Homo sapiens: one gene and its partners. The protein of the gene in region 1 purifies or fractionates together with the protein of each later gene. This does not show direct contact. Each region holds a gene or a part of one and is shown on either strand. Other genes may lie near its edges.

Evidence for each region.
Region 2: the proteins of PTPRN (region 1) and MFSD8 purify together in Homo sapiens (affinity purification with mass spectrometry; 2 studies listed by BioGRID and IntAct, with this or other methods). This does not show direct contact.
Region 3: the proteins of PTPRN (region 1) and TMEM214 purify together in Homo sapiens (affinity purification with mass spectrometry; 3 studies listed by BioGRID and IntAct, with this or other methods). This does not show direct contact.

What each region holds. Positions count from the first base shown.
Region 1 is NC_000002.12:219,292,382-219,299,404, reverse strand, and holds part of PTPRN (receptor-type tyrosine-protein phosphatase-like N isoform 1 precursor), read left to right. Parts: intron 1-20; coding exon 21-100; intron 101-293; coding exon 294-358; intron 359-1,301; coding exon 1,302-1,520; intron 1,521-1,971; coding exon 1,972-2,172; intron 2,173-2,272; coding exon 2,273-2,420; intron 2,421-2,582; coding exon 2,583-2,656; intron 2,657-2,888; coding exon 2,889-2,966; intron 2,967-3,059; coding exon 3,060-3,179; intron 3,180-4,263; coding exon 4,264-4,430; intron 4,431-5,204; exon of another isoform or gene 5,205-5,294; intron 5,295-7,023. UniProt on the Homo sapiens protein: Plays a role in vesicle-mediated secretory processes. Required for normal accumulation of secretory vesicles in hippocampus, pituitary and pancreatic islets.
Region 2 is NC_000004.12:127,962,168-127,970,172, reverse strand, and holds the start of MFSD8 (major facilitator superfamily domain-containing protein 8), read left to right. Parts: upstream 1-4,999; 5' UTR 5,000-5,039; coding exon 5,040-5,101; intron 5,102-8,005. UniProt on the Homo sapiens protein: Outward-rectifying chloride channel involved in endolysosomal chloride homeostasis, membrane fusion and function. Conducts chloride currents up to hundreds of picoamperes.
Region 3 is NC_000002.12:27,035,948-27,042,200, forward strand, and holds the end of TMEM214 (transmembrane protein 214), read left to right. Parts: intron 1-22; coding exon 23-105; intron 106-539; coding exon 540-645; intron 646-757; coding exon 758-839; intron 840-1,129; coding exon 1,130-1,231; intron 1,232-1,613; coding exon 1,614-1,755; intron 1,756-1,842; coding exon of another isoform or gene 1,843-1,854; exon of another isoform or gene 1,855-1,867; coding exon of another isoform or gene 1,868-1,945; intron 1,946-2,084; coding exon of another isoform or gene 2,085-2,198; coding exon 2,199-2,290; intron 2,291-2,536; coding exon 2,537-2,585; intron 2,586-2,754; coding exon 2,755-2,868; intron 2,869-3,099; coding exon 3,100-3,217; intron 3,218-3,793; coding exon 3,794-3,890; intron 3,891-4,082; coding exon 4,083-4,251; intron 4,252-4,397; coding exon 4,398-4,549; intron 4,550-4,763; coding exon 4,764-4,890; 3' UTR 4,891-5,747; downstream 5,748-6,253. UniProt on the Homo sapiens protein: Critical mediator, in cooperation with CASP4, of endoplasmic reticulum-stress induced apoptosis. Required or the activation of CASP4 following endoplasmic reticulum stress.

The DNA of each region.
Region 1 (7,023 bases):
ACATAGCTCCTATCTGGCAGTGTGGTGGGACCAGCCCTCACCTTCCGCATCCGGCACAATGAGCAGAACCTGTCTTTGGCTGATGTGACCCAACAAGCAGGTAAATATCTCTGCGACCTCAATCCCAGGCTTGGCCCCAGCCCCACTCCTAAGAGGATATATCCAGGCCTGTTGCTGATGCCCCCTTGAAATGTTCCCAGCCCACATGGGCCCTGCCTGCTGCTTGGCAGAGCAAGACAGAGGATGGAGACCACATGGGGCTGGAGCAAGCCTGACCTTTGTCCTCCCTGCAGGGCTGGTGAAGTCTGAACTGGAAGCACAGACAGGGCTCCAAATCTTGCAGACAGGAGTGGGACAGGTATGCGCTAACTGGAGAATCAGTCCAAGTCCCCAGAGGGCTGATGTTGTCCGCAAGAGCTGGAGGCAAACCAGAGGGGAGAACTGGAGCCGAAACGTGTCCGTAGGCACGGCTGGCTGGAGGCGGCCTTCGCCCAAGCAGCCCCTCCCCGCAGTTCTCTTTCTCACCAGCAGATGGCGTAGGTGTCCCCTCCCTGCAGGACCAGCCCTCTGTAGTAAAAAGGCCTGAGAACTAGTTGAGCCGCCCTTAGTCTGCTGGAGCGCAGTCTCCAAATTCCAAGGGAACACCTTGCACAGAAAGGACATTATACTCAAAATATGTTTTGTTTGTTTGTCTGAGACAGAGTTTCACTCTTGCTGTCCAGGCTGGAGTGCAGTGGCTCGATCTCGGCTCACTGCAACCTCCACCTGCCAGGTTCAAGCGATTCTCCTGCCTCAGCCTCCCAAGTAGCTGGGATTACAGGTGCCTGCCACCACACCCGGCTAAATTTTTTTTTGTATTTTTAGTAGAGATGGGGTTTCACCATGTTGGCCAGGCTGGTCTCGAACTCCCGATCTCAGGTGATCCGCCAACCTTTGGCCCCCCAAAGTGCTGAGATTACAGGTGTGAGCCACCACGCCCGGCCTATACTCAAAATACCTTTGTCTTCTGCATCCAACACTGATGCCTCACGTTCTACAATTCAATTCCTAGGGTTCTCTGTCCGTTTTTAAATGCAAACACTCCTGGTGGGGGCCTCTGGCACTGCACTGTGGTTGAGTTGATCCGATGGGGATTGAGAAGGAGAATCTGAGCCCATCTGGCTGTACCACCATACCCCTAATCTCCCAGCTTTGCCCCAGGAGATGTCCTAACAGGGGGTGTGGCATGGGACCGGGGTGAGGAGCAGCTCTGAAACCTCCCTATGCCACTGCCTCCCTTGATTCTAGCCTTGTTCCCACAGAGGGAGGAGGCAGCTGCAGTCCTTCCCCAAACTGCGCACAGCACCTCACCCATGCGCTCAGTGCTGCTCACTCTGGTGGCCCTGGCAGGTGTGGCTGGGCTGCTGGTGGCTCTGGCTGTGGCTCTGTGTGTGCGGCAGCATGCGCGGCAGCAAGACAAGGAGCGCCTGGCAGCCCTGGGGCCTGAGGGGGCCCATGGTGACACTACCTTTGAGTACCAGGTGTGCAGCCCCAGAAGCTGATTGAGCAAAGGAAATGCAAGGGGCCTGGGAGTCTGGGTCTTGCGTGGACTAAGGGTCGGAACTGAATGGGGAGTGAGCCCTCATCCCTGGGAAGGTCCAGTGGAGGCTGGAGAAGCCCCAGTGGGAGGGAGTATGGTAGGGGCCTTTATGAACGCATGGGAATTGGGAGCATACAGTGCCTAAGGTTCTTCTTGGTGCTGTGCTTCTGGGGCTCTGGGATTCCACTCTGTCATGTCTGAGGTTGACATAAGCACCACCCAAGCAAAACAGCCCTGGAAAGGATCAGGGCCAGGCAGAAGACCATACCCCAGAGGAGCTGAGTTCCACTGAAAATCAGTCAAGGGCAAGCCTAGGAGCCCAGAGTTGAACCCAGGGCCCTGTTGAAAAGTTTCAGGGGACTCTTGGACCTCACCTGATTCTTCCTCCACAGGACCTGTGCCGCCAGCACATGGCCACGAAGTCCTTGTTCAACCGGGCAGAGGGTCCACCGGAGCCTTCACGGGTGAGCAGTGTGTCCTCCCAGTTCAGCGACGCAGCCCAGGCCAGCCCCAGCTCCCACAGCAGCACCCCGTCCTGGTGCGAGGAGCCGGCCCAAGCCAACATGGACATCTCCACGGGACACATGATTCTGGTCAGGACAGGGCCTGGGCCCAGAGTGGGTGAAGGAATGGGATGGTGAGAGAGGCCAGGCTGGCTGTGTGGGCCAGAGCCAGACCGTGGTGCCCCCACAGGCATACATGGAGGATCACCTGCGGAACCGGGACCGCCTTGCCAAGGAGTGGCAGGCCCTCTGTGCCTACCAAGCAGAGCCAAACACCTGTGCCACCGCGCAGGGGGAGGGCAACATCAAAAAGAACCGGCATCCTGACTTCCTGCCCTGTGAGTGAACCCTGCTGGCCCACCTGGCCCAGCCCTCTCTCTGCTGCGAGGTCTGGAGGGCTTGGGGTAAGGGGTTGGGCTTCTGGCTCAGGCTGAGTGGCAGAGGTCCCGCGATGCCAATGACCAGAGGGCCATCTGGGGTGGGGTGTCGGGTCTGTGCAGATGACCATGCCCGCATAAAACTGAAGGTGGAGAGCAGCCCTTCTCGGAGCGATTACATCAACGCCAGCCCCATTGTGAGTGGCCCTGACTCCAGCCCCCACCTCTGCCCCATCATTATCCTGGCCCTATGCACTCCATTTCCCCGTGGTCACCTGCCACCCCACCAACCCCCTGGAGTGGTGGGGCCTGATATCCTAGCAAGGGGGAACTGCCAGCCTTCTCAGACCCTGACCCACTTGCTCTGACCACGCCTGTCCATAGTGGCATTTCCCACACTGGCTCATGGTGTATCTTCCCTGCCTCCAGATTGAGCATGACCCTCGGATGCCAGCCTACATAGCCACGCAGGGCCCGCTGTCCCATACCATCGCAGACTTCTGGCAGGTGGGCTCTTAAAGGGAGGGCTTCGCTGGGGTCCTTGTGGCCACGAGGTCCCAGGGAGGTTAGAGTGGAGCTCAACTGGGTCTCTGTCCCTAGATGGTGTGGGAGAGCGGCTGCACCGTCATCGTCATGCTGACCCCGCTGGTGGAGGATGGTGTCAAGCAGTGTGACCGCTACTGGCCAGATGAGGGTGCCTCCCTCTACCACGTATATGAGGTCAGCAGGGCCCCACAGCAAGGGGACAATGGATGTGGGAAGAGTAGATGATGGCCTTTTCGTAACGTTTTCTTCACCAAATGAGCACTCAACAGTCTTTTTAAAAAGGCTTTTATTGGCCCTGCTCATGATTCATACATATATGAATATATATAAACACATATATGCATACCCATATATTCACATATATACATGTGTGTGTCCTGTTTACAGAACATACATGTGTGTGTGTGTGTGTGTGTGTGTGTGTCCTGTCTAGAGTCAAAAAGCGTTCATAGAGACTTATGATAAAGGCACAGAGATCAAACTATAAAACCACCAAAACCGAGGTAAGAAGCTAACAGCTAAGTGTATATTAGACAGGGAAGATAAGGATACCCAAAGACTGAGATTAAGACCTACGTTAATTGAACCTAATTTAGCTCTGAGTTTCCTGGTGGCCAAAGCAAAGAAAGACATACCACCCGTTACATACGTTACTAATGTAAAAGAGAAACAAACTTTTTCATTAGGAGAGAGACTAGGTGGAGGGGTGGAGAAGGAGGGGGAACTGGGCAGAGGCCAAGCAGGGGAAAGAGAAATATTTCAGACAAATGGGAGAACGTGAGTCCCCACTAAGACAAAAAAACCTTAAGAACACAGCAGAAGCTTCTCATCACCAGATGAGCCTGAATAGTAATTTTTTCCCCACCAAATAAGCACATGACGGTTTTTTTAAAAAGCCTTTCATTGGTCCTGCTGGTGGTTAACGAAAAAAATCCAGTAAGAATACTACAGAATTTCATCCAAGTTTATGGCACGTGTAGCACCGATACTCTGGTAGACCCTGCGAGGAAGAGGGAGGAGAAACTCCGACCTCGAGAGGCTCACAATAGCTGTGTCTGGGTGGAAAAGCTACTAGTGGTCCTGAGCAGTAGATAAGTGACAGGCAGCCAGGGTTCCTGGGACCGCTGGAACTTAGAATTTGAACCGGCCTGGGAGGCCGGGCGGTGGTTGGAGAGACCGAGAAGGTCGCGAGGAGAGCGCGCGCAACGCGGGGACTGGGGCAGCCCGCGGCGCTCAGGCCTGGGCCCCTGCCGGGCAGGTGAACCTGGTGTCGGAGCACATCTGGTGCGAGGACTTTCTGGTGCGGAGCTTCTACCTGAAGAACGTGCAGACCCAGGAGACGCGCACGCTCACGCAGTTCCACTTCCTCAGCTGGCCGGCAGAGGGCACACCGGCCTCCACGCGGCCCCTGCTGGACTTCCGCAGGTGAGCGCGGGCGCCCCCGCCTGGAGGGACCGCATGGGCGGGGGCGGAGCCGGGGTCCGCCCGCCGCTCGGCCTGGAGCCCCGGGTCGGGCCTGGAGCCTCGGCCTCTGACTTCTGGCCGCCCGCTCCAGACCCCACGCTCCCACCCCTAAAAGCAGGCCTGAGGCTCCGGCTGTGCCCTTCCCCGAGCCTCCACCACCCGCGTGGGCCAGCTCCGCGCCGGCCGCTGCTGCTCTGCTCCCTCCCTCTCACGCTCCCGGGACTGGCTCCTTCTCCTCCACCTGCTTCCTCCAGAGGGCCCTCTGCTTTCTGTCTCCCCTCCCTCTCCAGGACCCCTGCTTCCTTTCTCCTTCCAGTTCCCTCCTGCCCCGCTGTCTCCAGGCCCTGCACTGCGCTGCCTTGCTGCCCCCTCCGTCTCTCACTCCCGCCTGCCCGTCTCCCCTCCTTCATCCCTCTCCGTCCCTCCTTCATCCCTCTCCGTCTCTTCGCCTCTTTTTTCTGTGTCTTTCATTCTTTTTCCTTTCCTCTTTCTTCCTCTTCTCTCTCCCCATCTCTCTCTCACTCTGTCTCTGCCTCACCCTTTCCCTCTCTCTCCATTTCTCCCTCTCCGCGCTTCTCTTCCTTTCTCTCTGCCCTCTCCCCTGTTTTTCTCCACCTCCTTCCCCTGTCTGCCAGTTTCTCTCTGCTGCTCTGTCCGTCTCTCCCTCTCCCTCCCGCTGCCTGTCTTTCCTCTCTCTGTCCTTCCCTCTCCCTTCTTCCCTCTTTCTCTCTCTCCCTCACAGCTGCCAGTGTCATTTTTGTGATCTGCAGCTAGTATTCTCACTCCAGTTGCATAGTCACAAAAGTGATCATTGGCAGGTGTGGCTGCTGCATGGACAGACAGGACATGTGGCCCGGGGACCACCCCGAGCTGGGAGCAAGGGGTACAGGGAAGAGGCAAAGACTGTCGAAAGGAGTGTGGGAGGATCTCTGGATTCTGGGGGGCTCAGTGGAGCAGGTGGGGACTAGACAGGGGCTACCTGAGGGACTTACCCTTTTCCAACACTGACACCAAGACAGGTCAGCCCTCCAGCGTCCCCTGCTTTTCCTAGCCCCAGACAGGTACTTGGGAAGCCCACTACCAAGGGCAGGGGCCCACCCACACTGCGCCCTTCTCCTGGTTCTCTGTCCCTTGCCAAGCTGGCCTGATGTCTCTAGGTACTGGACAGAGGAGCAGAGCTGGGGGTGGGGACATGGGTATAGTTTCTGAACCTCAGGACAGCAGTTTCTAACTGGGGTCCCTGAGGCCTGAGACACAGGCGTCTTGAAAGCAGTGCCAGGGTATCAGAGCTATTTCCTTTTTTCCATATTTAAAAAATCCTGGTAGAACTAGTGCATGGATCTGTTTTAAAGCTGCACAGATAAGCTAAAAGATTGCTTTAGGCTGGAATTATGTAAACTCAGTTGGCATTAGACATCCAGAACAAATAAACTGTTGCTTAAGAAATGCAGTTCGGGGCCGGGCGCGGTGGTTCACACCTGTAATCCCAGCACTTTGGGAGGCCGAGGTGGGTGGATCACTTGAGATCAGGAGTTCAAGACCAGACTGGCCAACATGGTCAAACCCTGTTCTGCCAAAAATACAAAAATTAGCCAGGCAGGGTGGCGAGCGCCTGTACTCCCAGCTACTCGGGAGGCTGAGGCAGGAGAATCTCTTAAACCTGGGAGGCAGCAGTTGCAGTGAGACGAGACCGTGCCACTGTACTGCCACTTGGGCAACAGAGCCAGACTCCCTCTCAAAATAAATAAATAAATAAATAAATAAATAAATGCAGTTTGGTCAAGCCCCCCTAGAAGGAAAACAAATTAATAAAAGAGACCCTAAGAAAGTGACCCTGAGTAAGTTCCTTGGCTTCCCTCCATTCCGCTACCTGTGAGATGGGGATGATTACACATACTTTAGAGCAGAGGTTCCCAACCTTTTTGGCACAAGGGACCGGTTTTGTGGAAGACAATTTTTCCACGGCTGGGAGAGGGGGTGGTTTGAGGATGAAACTGTTCCCCCTCAGATCATCAGGCATTAGATTCTCATAAGGAGCTCACAACCTAGATCCCTCACATGTGCAGGTCACGATAGGGTTCGCACTTCTGTGAGAATCTATTGCAATGGCTGATCTAACAGGAGGCGGAGCTCAGGTGGTAATGTTCGCTTGCCTCCTGCTATGCGGCTCGGTTCCCAACAGGCCATAGACTGACACTGGTCCATGGCCCAGGGATTGGGGACCCCTGCTTTAGAGGGCTGTTGCAAGATTTGATAAAGTATGTAAAATCTAGTGTAAGTGCCTGATACATAGCAAGGGCTCCGTTAATTCTAGATGCTGCCTATTATCATTATTAAATGAGCAAAAACAACTATTGTGATTACTCTTCTACCCTAGCCCTCTGACGTAACAGCCAATGAGCTAGAAAACCATGTGGACTCCTATGAAGCCATTCTAAGTCACCTGGTCCTATAGCTGAAGGACTGTGAAGTTCCAAACTTCAATCTGACAACCCCTAAGAAGGTCTTCCCTGGTTCTGGCTTGCAGGGATATCAGGAGTATGCAGGTGACTCC
Region 2 (8,005 bases), on another chromosome or scaffold:
GGTGGCTCACATCTGCAATCCCAGCACTTTGGGACGCTGAGGAGGGAGGATTGCTTGAGCTCAGGAATCTGAAACCAGCCTGGTCAACATAGTGAGACCTCGTCTCTTAAAAAAAAAAAATCCTGGCCAGGCGCAGTGGCTCATGATTGTAATCCTAGCACTTTGGGAGGCCAAGACGGGAGGACTGCTCGGGCCCAGGAGCGCAAGACAAGCCCTGGCAACACAATGAGACCCTGTCTCTACAAAAAAATTTTGAAATCTAGCCAGGTGTGGTGGTGCACACCTGTAGTCCCAGCTACTCAGTAGGCTGTGGAGGGAAGATTGTGTAAGCCTGGGAAGTTGAGGCAACAGTGCACATCGTTGCACCACTGCACTCCAGCCTCGGCAACAGAGCAAAATCCTGTCTCCAAAAAAAAAAAAAAATTCCAACACCTATATTTTACAGTAAGAAGAAAAGTAATATACTGCTCATGAGATGCTCCATTTTCCTAAACTTTGATATTCTTCTAGATTGGTAGATAAAACCAAGATAAAGCAAAAATATAGAATTAGAAAGTTGCAAAGGAAGCAAGAAAGGACCTAAGAACAATGAACTTTTCAAATATTTTGTAAAGTACTATATTTATTGTTTGCCTAAATTATTTACTTATTTCTAGTTTTCAACCCAAACTAGAAAACCTTCCCAGTAGCTCATGCCTGTAATCGCAGCCCTTTGGGAGGCTGAGGCAGGCGGATCACCTGAGTTTGGGAGTTGGAGACCAGCCTGACCCATGGAGAAACCCCGTCTCTATTAAAAATACAAAATTAGCCAGGTGTGATGGTGGGCACCTGTAATCCCAGCTACTTGGGAGGTTGAGGCAGGTGAATCCCTTGATCCTAGGAGGTGGAGGTTGCAGTGAGCTGATATTGCACCATTGCACTCCAGCCTGGGCAACGAGAGCAAAAGTCCGTCTCAAAAAAAAAAAAAAGAAAAAAGAAAAAAAGAAAACCTTCCCAAATCACTTTAATTCCCTGCATAACAGGCCACAAAAGTCAGCACTCCAAACTTAGACACAGCATATTCCTTACTATATTTACCTACTAATAAACAACTAATAAATGAGGAAAAGAAAGTAAATCAAACGCACATATAGGTTAGTATAAATTTGGTTCTGGGGTTTGGGGTCATACAAATCTTCTTAAATCCCATTTCAGCTCCAAGAACAACATAAAAGACAGTTTTTGTGGAACTCTCTAAACACGTAAGTCTTTCTAGACAGGGTTGGCTGGGTCCAGGGTATCTAGTGCCACCATGAACAGATAAAAATCCAAGCCCAGGGTGAACGTAACTCCAAATCACCAAAATAAGGCACCATCTGGAGTCATGCCAGATACTTAAAAGTCCCCACTTCAGGCTGGACAGACAACAATGAGCTTCTGCAGAAATAGAACCTATTTTTGAAGTATATATCAAGCTAAAATGACACAGTTATCAATGTGAAAGGGAAAAGCAAAGGGAAACAAAAATAGAAGTTCTAGTACAGTGCCAAGAACTAAAAAGTCTTTCCTAGAAATGAGTTCTATTGCTAAAGTGACACTCATCATTTATTATGCTATCTAGTGCTTTTATTTCCTGTCATTTGGGTACCTAAGCATTTAACAATGCAATACTAATTTTTTCTGGACTTTTATCCTTACATTGGTGATACATATCTCAAAGGCATAAATGAAAATTTAAAAAATATCACCATGTACAAGAACTTATTCCCTTACCTAAAAAAGAAGACTTTAAATTTTATCTTGTAATTTCACTTCTAAATAATGTCTATACAAGTTTAAGTAGCTAAGAAAGGGTTTAGATACCTCAGATATCCACTGTTAAAATCTACTTCCCTAGCTTCACAAATATAATTCAACAAATATAATTCCTTACTCTTACACTGAACAAGAGTAAGAAAATAGGATGTTTGTTTGTTTATTTTTTGAGACGGAGTCTCGCTCTGTCGCCCAGGCTGTAGTGCAGTGGCGCAATCTCGGCTCACTACAAGCTCCGCCTCCCGGGTTCACCCCATTCTCCTGCCTCAGCCTCTCCGAGTAGCTGGGACTACAGGCGCCCGTCACCACGCCCGGCTACTTTTTTGTATTTTTAGTAGAGACGGGGTTTCACCGTGGTCTCGACCTCCTGACCTCGTGATCCGCCCGCCTCGGCCTCCCAAAGTGCTGGGATTACAAGCGTGAGCCACCGCGCCCGGCTGTTTGTTTGAAAGGGGTGTGGGTAAATATCCTGGGCAGTCACCTAAGGAAATGCACCAAATGGAGTCTCATATTCTTGTGTGAAACATTCGGGAAATAATCTAATCTCTTCAAATTTAGCTCCTCTTTTCCATGGGCTTTATAAAAAAAAATTACATATATATATATGTTTAAATGTTTACTTTGGATGCTATGTGTGTGTTCCTAAGAGACATTTTCTTTTTTTTTTTTTCCTACTGGTACAATACACTAAGCTTACTTAGATTTCACCAGCTGTATATGTACTCATTCCATATGCTTTTGTGGTCTGAAGTCATCACTTGGAGGCACCAATGGAAAAGAGCAGTGTCAGAGGGCTGGGATTCCTCTACCAGCTGTGTGACCTTGAGTAAGCCACCTTAACCTATAAACAGAAAGTAATATCTGCCCTGATACATGATAGCCAATTATTTCACTTAGATAAAAACTGAATATCTACTATATATTTTTATGAGATATAAGGAAAGATTCTTCTTGCCGCTTTGCCATTTTTTCCCATAAGAAGCCTGGTGGTAAAGAGCACAGGCTTAGGATCAGGAGTCCTGCATTTCTTGAATTCTAGCTCTGTTGCTTGTTAGTAGTATGATCCTAGGCAAGTTACTTAATCTCCCTGCCTTCCATTTCCTTGTACACATGAGACAATTCCCCCCTCAGAGGATTGTTGTAAGGATGAGATGAAGTAATTCAATGAGCATTCATCCAACATATATTTATCTAGGAGCCATTCTGCTTACTGCTATACTGGTTAAAAATCCCCTTGTCCACTATATATGTGCCATACATTGCTAGCCCCCAGGAATTAAAAAAGACAATATAATAAAGCGACATTATGGCAAGAAAATACTAACTTTTCTACCTATGTGTCTTTTTGGAACCAATAATACAAATCTGACTTGTTTTTGTGAGCTGTTACAAATGAATCTGCAAGACTGAATCCAAGTACAAAATATCAGGTCTTGATTTAGAAGATATTTCTGAATAGCACGTTTCAAGGTTTTTGGTTTTTTTTTTTTTTTTGAGACAGAATCTCACTCTGTTGCCCAGGCTGGAGTGCAGTGGCGTGATCTCGGCTCACTGCAGCCTCCGCCTCCCGGGTTCAAGGGATTCTCCTGCCTCAGCCTCCCGAGTAGCTGGGACTATAGGCGCCCGCCACCACGCCCGGCTTTTTTTTTTTTTTTTTTTTTTTTTTTTTTTTTTTTGTATTTTTAGTAGAGACGGGGTTTCACCGTGTTAGCCAGGATGGTCTCGATCTCCTGACCTCGTGATCCGCCCGCCTTGGCCTCCCAAGGTGCTGGGATTACAGGCATGAACCATCGCACCCAGACCGCACGTTTCAAGTTTAGGTGTTCACCAGTGAACTGCGCCTGGCTGATACACACAAGGTCACAAATGACACAAAGATCAGAAGTGATGGCATATACCATACATGACTGTGTAACTAGTATAGGACCTAGCATAGGGTAAATGCTCATAAATATTAATTTAAAAAAATTAAGTTTGGTTTCCAACTTTGCCACTTCCACACAGAGTGACTCTGGGTTAACTTGTCTGGATCTTAATTTTCAGTAAACTAGCAATGTGTCTGCTTCGCCTATCTCATAGGATACTTGTGATCAAATGAAATTACATGACAATGTATCTGGCGCTAATAAAACGGTAATTTATGAGACACAGAATGACTACTGACGCCAGCTAGCCTACAAGCCTAATAGTAGAGATAAGATGTTAATACATAACCACCAAGAAATAAACATGGAGATCTAGTGAAAACCCATGACATGTTTTCTAAAAATGTCATCTTCCTTGTGACGAAAGGAGCTGGTCATTGCTAGGCAGGTGCTGTACCTTTTTCAACTCCCACGTTTCAGCAGCAGGCTCTGCTGAGTGACATTTTGCAAGGCTGAGGCCCCCGTAGGCGCAGGCGCCGTTGGGGTGCGCATCCGGGGACCTGCAGGTTACAAGCAGCAGATCCCACCTTCAGTCCTGGCTCTGACAAGCCCTCCAGGTAAGGCGCCTTTGCATTTAGCCGAGCTAGAGAAGAGAGCTGGAAGCCACCTCTACCTTTCACGGGGGGAAGGGACTGCCCGCGCGCTCGCCCCCATTATCTCAGCCCTCCGAAGCGCGCCACGGACTCCAGCCTTGTCTCTCACCCCCAGCCTCACCCCGCGTCCCTGACCCGCGAGTCTCCCGCCCAGCTCCGCGTCCCCGGTCCCTGCCTCCAGGCGCGTACACGGCGCGCTAAGAGGCGCGGGGAGCTCTTAGCGCACCTACTACTTAACCGGACCGGCTACTTACTGGCCGCCAGGTGGAAGCCTGCGATCGAGCTGGCCGGGCCTCCCAGCACCGCCGCTCTCCAGGCTCCCTTTCCAGGACTCAACTTTGGTCCCAGCCCCAATCGCAGCTCCGGTAACCTTTCCAGGAACCGAAATGCTAGATACAGCGGAAGGAGAAACGGAGGGAGGAAGACAAACCCGGAGCAGGGCGGCGCGGCAGTTTGGACACGCCCCGAGCTCTCCTGGGCTCTCAGTCCCCGTCAGGATGGGAGGCGCGTGCCGAGGGAGGAGGCTGAGGACACAGCCTCCTTTCGCCCTGCGCTGCCCGGCCTTCCGCGTGACCCCGCCTATGACCTCGGGGCGTTCCGCCTACGTCTGACCGTCAGGTGCGCACGCGCACTTACAGGCTTGTTTTGCCAGCTTCACGCCACCCGGGATGGGAGAAAGCAGGTGTCGCGAGAGTTGGGCGCAAGACGCCTTGTAGGGAGTGTAACTATGGCCGGCCTGCGGAACGAAAGTGAACAGGAGCCGCTCTTAGGCGACACACCTGGAAGCAGGTGAGCGGATCCTGGTGGAGGGACCCCTCAGTCTCCTGCGCTGTTGGGACTGGTTCCTTTCCGGGCGTCACCCGCACTGGGACAAACCCTCGCTGCCAGAGGGGTTCCAGCGCGGTGGGAGCCGGTGGCTGGGTTGTGTGAGCCGAGGAGATTCGCTCCCAACGTAGGAGAAAGGGCGTCTGGCCGCACCGTGCGGTGATGAGCCCGTGGGTTCGAGTGACGGGGCTGGAGAAACCCAGGCTGCTGCTTTGCCTGTTGCAGCACCCAAGCTGAGAGGTGACAGCGTGCTGGCAGTCCTCACAGCCCTTGCTCGCTCTCCAGGCCTCCTCTGCCTGGGCTCCCACTTTGGCGGCACTTGAGGAGCCCTTCAGCCCACCGCTGCACTGTGGGAGCCCCTTTCTGGGCTGGCCAAGGTGGGAGCCGGCTCCCTCAGCTTGCAGGGAGGTGTGGTGGGAGAGGCGTGAGCGGGAACCGGGGCTGCGCGCCGCGCTTGCGGGCCAGCTGGAGTTCCGAGTGGGCGTGGGCTTGGCGGGCCCCGCACTGGGAGCAGCAGGCCGGCCCTGCCGGCCCCGGGCAATGAGGGGCTTAGCACCCGGGCCAGCGGCTGCGGAGGGTGTGCTGGGTCCCCCAGCAGTGCCAGCCCACTGGCGCTGCGCTCGATTTCTCGCCGGGCCTTAGCTGCCTTCCCGCGGGGCAGGGCTCGGGACCTGCAGCCCGCCATGCCTGAGCCTCCCACCCACTCCGTGGGCTCCTGTGCGGCCCGAGCCTCCCCGATGAGCGCCGCTCCCTACTCCACGGTGCCTAGTCCCATCGACCACCCAAGGGCTGAGGAGTGCGGGTGCACGGCGCGGGACTGGCAGGCAGCTCCACCTGCAGCCCCGGTGCGGGATCCACTGGGCGAAGCCAGCTGGGCTCCTGAGTCTGGTGGAGACGTGGAGAACGTTTATGTCTAGCTCAGGGATTGTAACTACACCAATCGGCACTCTGTATCTAGCTCAAGGTTTGTAAACACACCAATCAGCACCCTGTGTCTAGCTCAGGGTTTGTGAATGCACCAGTCGACACTCTGTATCTAGCTACTCTGGTGGGGCCTTGGAGAACCTTTCTGTCAACACTCTGTATCTAGTTAATCTAGTGGGGACGTGGAGAACCTTTGTGTCTAGCTCAGGGATTGTAAACGCACCAATCAGCGCCCTGTCAAAACAGACTACTCGGCTCTACCAATCAGCAGGATGTGGGTGGGGCCAGATAAGAGAATAAAAGCAGGCTGCCCACCAGTAGTGGCAACCCGCTGAGGTCCCTTTCCACAGTGTGGAAGCTTTGTTTTTTCGCTCTTTGCGATAAATCTTGCTACTGCTCACTCTTTGGGACCATACGGCTTTTATGAGCCGTAACACTCACCGCGAAGGTCTGCAGTTTCACTCCTGAAGCCAGCGAGACCACGGGGAGGAACGAACAACTCCAGACGCGCCGCCTTAAGAGTTGTAACACTCACCACGAAGGTCTGCAGCTTCGCTCTTGAGCCAGCGAGACCACGAACCCACCAGAAGGAAGAAACTCTGAACACATCTGAGCATCAGAAGGAACAAACTCCAGACGTGCCACCTTAAGAGCTGTTAACACTCACCGCGAGGGTCCGCAGCTTCATTCTTGAAGTCAGTGAGACCAAGAACCCACCAATCCCGGACACAAAGCCACCACATTCTGTATCTTCTGCATTCCATATTTGGCCCTTTGTAGCTGATCACTTTCCAGATTTCACAGTTTCAAAATGATGGTTTTAATAGATACTTGAAGGTATCGGTCTTAGTAATGACCTGCTGCCTAATTGCCTGACAACCTCTTGATAGTTTAACAAATCTGTCCAAAATGAGCTCGCCTTTGTCCTATGCCAAATGTACAAAGAAAGACTAATTTTAAGGCATTAAAGGAATAACGTCAGTATTTTGATCCTTATAATTCTGGTTGTTCTGATCCTAGTTTATGGGCAGTGACTCGGGAATGTATACCTAATGTATTTTTACCTTTAGGAAAACGGAATTACTATTTTATTTGAAATATACATAATAATTACCTCAGGTAAATTAATAAATTCAGTTAAACTTCAGCTGTCTATGACCATAATAATTTTTACTCATTTGTTCCCCTTAAGCACCAACCTTTTGTGAGCACTCTAACTCAAAACCCTTTGGCAAATGTATTTCTCTGGTCCTCGATTTACTAAACAGAGTTTATGCAATGCAGTTTTATCTTTACTTGATTTTATCTTGAGATCATTAAAATGAGTTTAGATGCTGATATGAATTTTAGTAGAGTGATGTCCTGAGAGCCTATTGAGACATTTGGGACTGTTTGCTTCTATACCAATTTATTTTACACTGCTATACTTTTTTTTTGAGACGGGGTCTTGCTCTGTGGCCTAGTCTGGAGTGCAGTGGTGAGCCTGGAGTGCAGTTTTATCTTTACTTGATTTTATCTTGAGATCATTAAAATGAATATCGATGCTGATATGAATTTTAATAGAGTGATGTCCTCAGAGCCTATTGAGACATTTGGGACTGTTGCTTCTATACCAATTTATTCTACACTGCTATACTTTTTTTTGAGACGGGGTCTTGCTCTGTGGGCTAGTCTGGAGTGCAGTGGTGCGATTTTGGCTCACTGCCACCTCTGCCTCCCAGGTTCAAGCGATTCTCCTGCCTCAGCTTCTGGAGTAGCTGGGATTAACAGACGTGGGCCACCAGACACGGCTAATTTTTGTATTTTTGGTAAAGACAGGGTTTCACCAGGTGGCCAGGCTGATCTGGAACTCCTGACCTCAAGTGATCCACCCACCTCAGCCTCCCAAAGTGCTGGTGTAGAAGCAAACAGTCCCAAATGTCTCAATAGGCTCTGAGGCCCGTT
Region 3 (6,253 bases), about 190 Mb from region 1:
GTGAGAATGTGTATCTCTCCAGGGGAGTCACTACATGGTTACCGCATCTGTATCCAGGCCATCCTGCAAGACAAGCCCAAGATTGCCACGGCAAACCTAGGCAAGGTGAGCTCTCAGTGATGGTGGGGATGCTAGGAAGCTAGGACTGGGGAGGCTGGGCAGAATCTATGTTGTTGGACTCAGGTTTGGGATAGTGGAAGACCTGTAAGCCTAGTAATAATGGGTAACACTATTAGCACCTATCCTGTGTGTGTGCTCTGGAAACATAGGAGCAAGGTACTGCTATTATTTCCCATTTTTATAGATGAAAAGATTGAGCCACAGAGGAGTTCAGTAACTTTCCTAGGCTCAGTCATCCAGTAAATGGCAGAGTATGGGCGAAGCCCACAAACAGAACCTGCACCACGTGGCCATAGTGCTCCACTCTTGCTCGGCCTGTCCTCCCTCTTCCAGTTGACATCTCCCTTCCCTCCTGGCTTTGGGGGGTGCTCCTGGTGTTTTGTCCTATCCCAATCTGCCTTCCCCACCGGTCTCCTCAGTTCCTGGAACTGCTGAGGTCCCACCAGAGCCGACCAGCAAAGTGTCTCACCATCATGTGGGCCCTGGGTCAAGCAGGTTTTGCCAACCTCACCGAGGGACTGAAAGGTAACAGGGAAATAGGGAAGAAAGAGGGAGGGTCTCGGAGCTGGAAAACTCCTCTTTGATGCCCCCAGTAGGTGCAAGCCTGAGGCCTCCCTCGTGACTTTTACCCCTGCAGTGTGGCTGGGGATCATGCTGCCTGTGCTGGGCATCAAGTCTCTGTCTCCCTTTGCCATCACATACCTGGATCGGCTGCTCCTGTGAGTAATGGGAGGGCAGCAAGGGGAAGGCTCAGGGTGTCCCAAGTGGCTGTTATAGCAAAATGGGAGGCTATGATCTTGGTCTCCATGGATATGAGGAAAATCAGGACCAGCTTCTCCCACCACCTTAGAATGTGATGGTGAGGAAGGAAGAAGAGGGAGCTATTAAGGGCTGGCAGATGGGGTAGAGTTTATACCCTTTTTCCTAGATGTTGGCTTAGCTGGGGTCATGGCCAAAACAGCTGGCATGGGTGGTGGTGTCCAGCGAGCCTGTTTCTTCATCCCCACAGGATGCATCCCAACCTTACCAAGGGCTTCGGCATGATTGGCCCCAAGGACTTCTTCCCACTTCTGGACTTTGCCTATATGCCGAACAACTCCCTGACACCCAGGTAGGACTGCTCTGGGGCACACCTGCTGAGAAGGGACCACAGCACCAGAACCACACTACATATTCCCGTCTCTCCTTCCCCAGCCATCCTAGATCTGAGATTTGCAACCTGGAAGTTCAAGAGTAGGTTTCAAGGGAACAGTGACCCCTTGAAATTATATGGACCCTTGAGTGTGATTGGCATATGGGCATTTTCTTAGGGATAGGGTCCATGGCTTTCAACAGATTTCCAAGGAGTCTCTGAGTAAAAAGATTCAGAGCCATTGCAAGGTCCTCAGTGGCTATTCCCCACAGGCAGGCATGGGCTCTGAAGCAAGCAAAAGGTTCATATCATACAGCTCCACTTATAGCTTATGCCTGTCTTTCCTCCCCACCCCACCCAGCCTGCAGGAGCAGCTGTGTCAGCTCTACCCCCGACTGAAAGTGCTGGCATTTGGAGCAAAGCCGGATTCCACCCTGCATACCTACTTCCCTTCTTTCCTGTCCAGAGCCACCCCTAGCTGTCCCCCTGAGATGAAGAAAGAGGTGAGGATATGGTGGGAGGCTTTTTCTCCTTCCCCAGGGGTCAGCTGTAGCGGTCCCTATCTGCTGACAAAGGCCTTGCCTTCACAGAGCCCATTCTGAGGCTTTTCCTTAGCTCCCTGTTGACAGCTGCCTGCCCCGCTCACTCGAGCTTCACCCTCAGAAGATGGATCCCAAGAGACAGCACATTCAGGTCTGGGTGGTTTCTGATGCCCGTCTCTTGCAGATAGTGATCTTTGAGCTCAAAGCTCTAGCTCAGGAGCCCCAGCCTCCTGCTTTACAGCCTCTCAGAGAGCTTTCTGGAGTCTTGACACTGTTTCTCCACCCCTTAGGGTGGATGTGCGGCCTGGATGGCCTTGCTTACGGGAAGGGGATCACCTCTTAGCACTCCCCGCCTCTGCCAGCCCCATGCCCCCAGCAGCCTCTCCCTCTGTCGTGCTGTGCAGCTCCTGAGCAGCCTGACTGAGTGCCTGACGGTGGACCCCCTCAGTGCCAGCGTCTGGAGGCAGCTGTACCCTAAGCACCTGTCACAGTCCAGGCAGGTGGGGTGGGAGGCCAGCCTGTCCCTGTGCTAGAAGCAGAAGGGGAGCCTGGGTCACTGTCCCATGGCCTGACACCTTTCAGGCTGAGTGGGAACATTGCTGGAGCAGCCTCTAGGAAGCTGCTGCTCTGTGGGTGGTAGGTGGAGGGTCTTTCAGCCTGAAGGAGCCAGGGCTAATGGAGGACAGGAGGATGGGTGAGGCTGCGCGAGCCACCTGACTAGGGGGTTGTGCTTTCCCCACAGCCTTCTGCTGGAGCACTTGCTCAGCTCCTGGGAGCAGATTCCCAAGAAGGTGAGGAGCTGGGAGGACGTGGCAGGTTGAGCCCTGTCTGGATTCTAGGTTCTGAGTGGGGGCTCCTCAGCCACTGTCCCTTCCCTGAGAAGGGACCCTGTTGGCATGGAAAATGAAGCAGGATGGAAGCTCTGGATTCCCTCACAGGCCAGACCTTTCTTGTCCATAGGTACAGAAGTCTTTGCAAGAAACCATTCAGTCCCTCAAGCTTACCAACCAGGAGCTGCTGAGGAAGGGTAGCAGTAACAACCAGGATGTCGTCACCTGTGACATGGCCTGCAAGGTGCTGGCACCCGGTCCTCTCCAGCCCACACGCTATCTTACATCTCTGTCTCAGCACACCTGGGTTGGGCCTGTATCACATTCCTGCCCCACCTGTCTGGAGCCCCCCGCTGCCTCCAGGATAATGTGAAGGCTTGACGCTCTTTCGGGAAGGCCTGGCTTGAGGTCTGCCCTCAGAGGCAAAGACCAGCCCCTCGCTTCTGACAACTGTCTCCTGCTCCCCTCCCACCAGGGCCTGTTGCAGCAGGTTCAGGGTCCTCGGCTGCCCTGGACGCGGCTCCTCCTGTTGCTGCTGGTCTTCGCTGTAGGCTTCCTGTGCCATGACCTCCGGTCACACAGCTCCTTCCAGGGTAAGCAGCAATGGGCAAGCGAGGAGGATGGTGTGGGCGGGGCACAGAGCTACACGTAGCACCACCACCCCGCCCCCAGCAGCACACATCTTTGTCCTGACGAGTTCTCAATCCTGCAGAGTAAACACTTTACAGACAGATTTTTTTGTCCACAGATATGACACTACCATTTCAGATTGGACTAGGACTTCGCAGTATAGAAGTGCTTGCATATTCATAGTATCATTTTAGTAGGTGTTACCTCCTTTTAACTCCTGAGGAAATGGTCTCAGAAAGATGTAGCAATTAGCTTTAGGTCATAGCTAGTAAGTAGAAGGGCAGACCCTCAACCTGAGGCTTCCTGAAGCCTGAGCCTAGGCTCCAACCGGCAGCTGCATTCCTGCACACCTGGCCCAGCAGGAGAAGGGCAGCTCTGCATGCCTCCCTCCACAGCAGCCTGGAGCTGGCTTTGTGGCCCTGTGAGAACACAAAGCTCTGCCCAGCGCCTCGCTGTGCCTGCTCTGGGCCCTGTAGTGTCTGTCTCCCCAGTCCCTGCCCCTCTCACCTCCCAGCTCACCAGAGGCCCCCTTTACTTAGCCTCCCTTACTGGCCGGTTGCTTCGATCATCTGGCTTCTTACCTGCTAGCCAACAAGCGTGTGCCAAGCTCTACTCCTACAGTCTGCAAGGCTACAGGTGAGCTCCTCCCAGGGAGGGGAGAGGAGAGGCAGAAGAGAGAAGGCCTGGGTGTCAGGGAGGAGGCGACAGTCAGTGGGAAGCGCTTGTGATTCTCCTTTCCCACGGCCTCCCTTTCCCCAGCTGTTTCTTGGGAGCTAAGTGGGCCTGAGGAGACTCAGAGCCCTCTTCCCCCACTTCCATCTTCCACAGCTGGCTGGGGGAGACACTGCCGCTCTGGGGCTCCCACCTGCTCACCGTGGTGCGGCCCAGCTTGCAGCTGGCCTGGGCTCACACCAATGCCACAGTCAGCTTCCTTTCTGCCCACTGTGCCTCTCACCTTGCGTGGTTTGGTGACAGTCTCACCAGTCTCTCTCAGAGGGTAAGTCAGAGACAGGGAGTCAAATAAGGGGCTGGTTTTCCCAGGAGCAGAATTCTGGGAAAGGAGCAGCACTGTGTGGCCTGAGTCTTTAGGGCCAGGATGCAGTTCCCTGGATACTCTGACCCCATCCATTCTCCATGGTCCAGCTACAGATCCAGCTCCCCGATTCCGTGAATCAGCTACTCCGCTATCTGAGAGAGCTGCCCCTGCTTTTCCACCAGAATGTGCTGCTGCCACTGTGGCACCTCTTGCTTGAGGCCCTGGCCTGGGCCCAGGAGCACTGCCATGAGGCATGCAGGTGAGACCTTTGCCCAGGGCTCCGGCAGGATCCCCAGCAGCCCCATTCCCGGGCCCCAGGGACAAGCCATCTCTATCCAGTCTCCCACACTGTCCTGCCCCTCGCTCCCATTCCTGGCCACCCTGGGATGAGGGTTGTGGGTCTAAGCTTTCATCCCCGAAAGTTGACACAGCTACTCACGTGCATACTCAAAAATGTTCCACTTTCCTTCCAGAGGTGAGGTGACCTGGGACTGCATGAAGACACAGCTCAGTGAGGCTGTCCACTGGACCTGGCTTTGCCTACAGGACATTACAGTGGCTTTCTTGGACTGGGCACTTGCCCTGATATCCCAGCAGTAGGCCCTGCCTTCCTGGCCACTGATTTCTGCATGGGTAGACCATCCAAGACTGCAGCGGGTAGAAGGTGGCAGTTCTTCATGGGAGTCTTTTTAACTTGGTGCCTGAGTTCTCTCCTAGGCAAGTGGCCAGTTGCCTCCACCTCAGTTCTTCCATCTTTGGTGGGGACAGGGCCCAGCAGCATCTCAGCCTCCTACCCACAATTCCACTGAACACTTTTCTGGCCCTACTGCACATGGCCCCCAGCCTCCATCCTTGTGCTGGTAGCCTCTCACAACTCCGCCCTTGCCCTCTGCCTTCCACTTCCTTCCATCTCATTTCTAAACCCCAAACAGCTCATCTCTAAAAAGATAGAACTCCCAGCAGGTGGCTTCTGTGTTCTTCTGACAAATGATTCCTGCTTCTCCAGACTTTAGCAGCCTCCTGTTCCCATTCTTGGTCACAGCTCTAGCCACAGCAGAAGGAAAGGGGCTTCCAGAAGAATATAGCACCGCATTGGGAAACAGCAGCCTCACCTCCACCTGAAGCCTGGGTGTGGCTGTCAGTGGACATGGGGAGCTGGATGGAAATGCCTCTCACTTCAAAATGCCCAGCCTGCCCCAAATGCCTCTAAGCCCCTCCCTGTCCCCTCCCTTGTAGTCCTACTTCTTCCAACTTTCCATTCCCCATCATGCTGGGGGTCTTGGTCACAAGGCTCAGCTTCTCTCCACTGTCCATCCCTCCTATCATCTGTAGAGCAGAGCACAGGCAGTTGTGTGCCTTGGGCCCAGGGAACCCTCCATCAACCTGAGACAGGACTCAGTATATGGTTCTTGGGTATGCCCTACCAGGTGGAATAAAGGACACAGATTTGATTTCTAGCATTCTTGTCTGCATCCTCATATAGAAATTCCCCTAGTTATGGTTCAGAATAACAAAATCCTGGGCCCTTGCCCTCCTGAAGACTGTAGCCGTGGCTGTAATTAAGCTCCTGGTGGGGGAAGCCCACACACATGGTTCTAAAGTTTGACCTGGTGGGTGTTCTAGACACTTCTCTTGCTACCCTAATTATAGTGTCTGACTTGTCACTGTGATTCACGTCCCAGATTTGCCTTGATAGTTTTACGCTTAGAAAAGCAGGGGGCCGTCTCCTAGGGGAATTCTTGGCCAGTGACCAGGAGGTGTCCTTTCCTTGCCAGGACCTTCATTTTATAGAGCAGTGAGTGAAAGATTTAGAACTCCAAGGGACACATGAGTCCAAGGTTTATCACCGAAGCCCCTTTTTATTTTTGACTTGAGACTATAAGGAGTTAGATAACTCTGCTGGTTTCTTAGTTCTCAATTTTGTTTCCTTAAATGTTTCAAGTCAGCAGTACTAGAGATACGC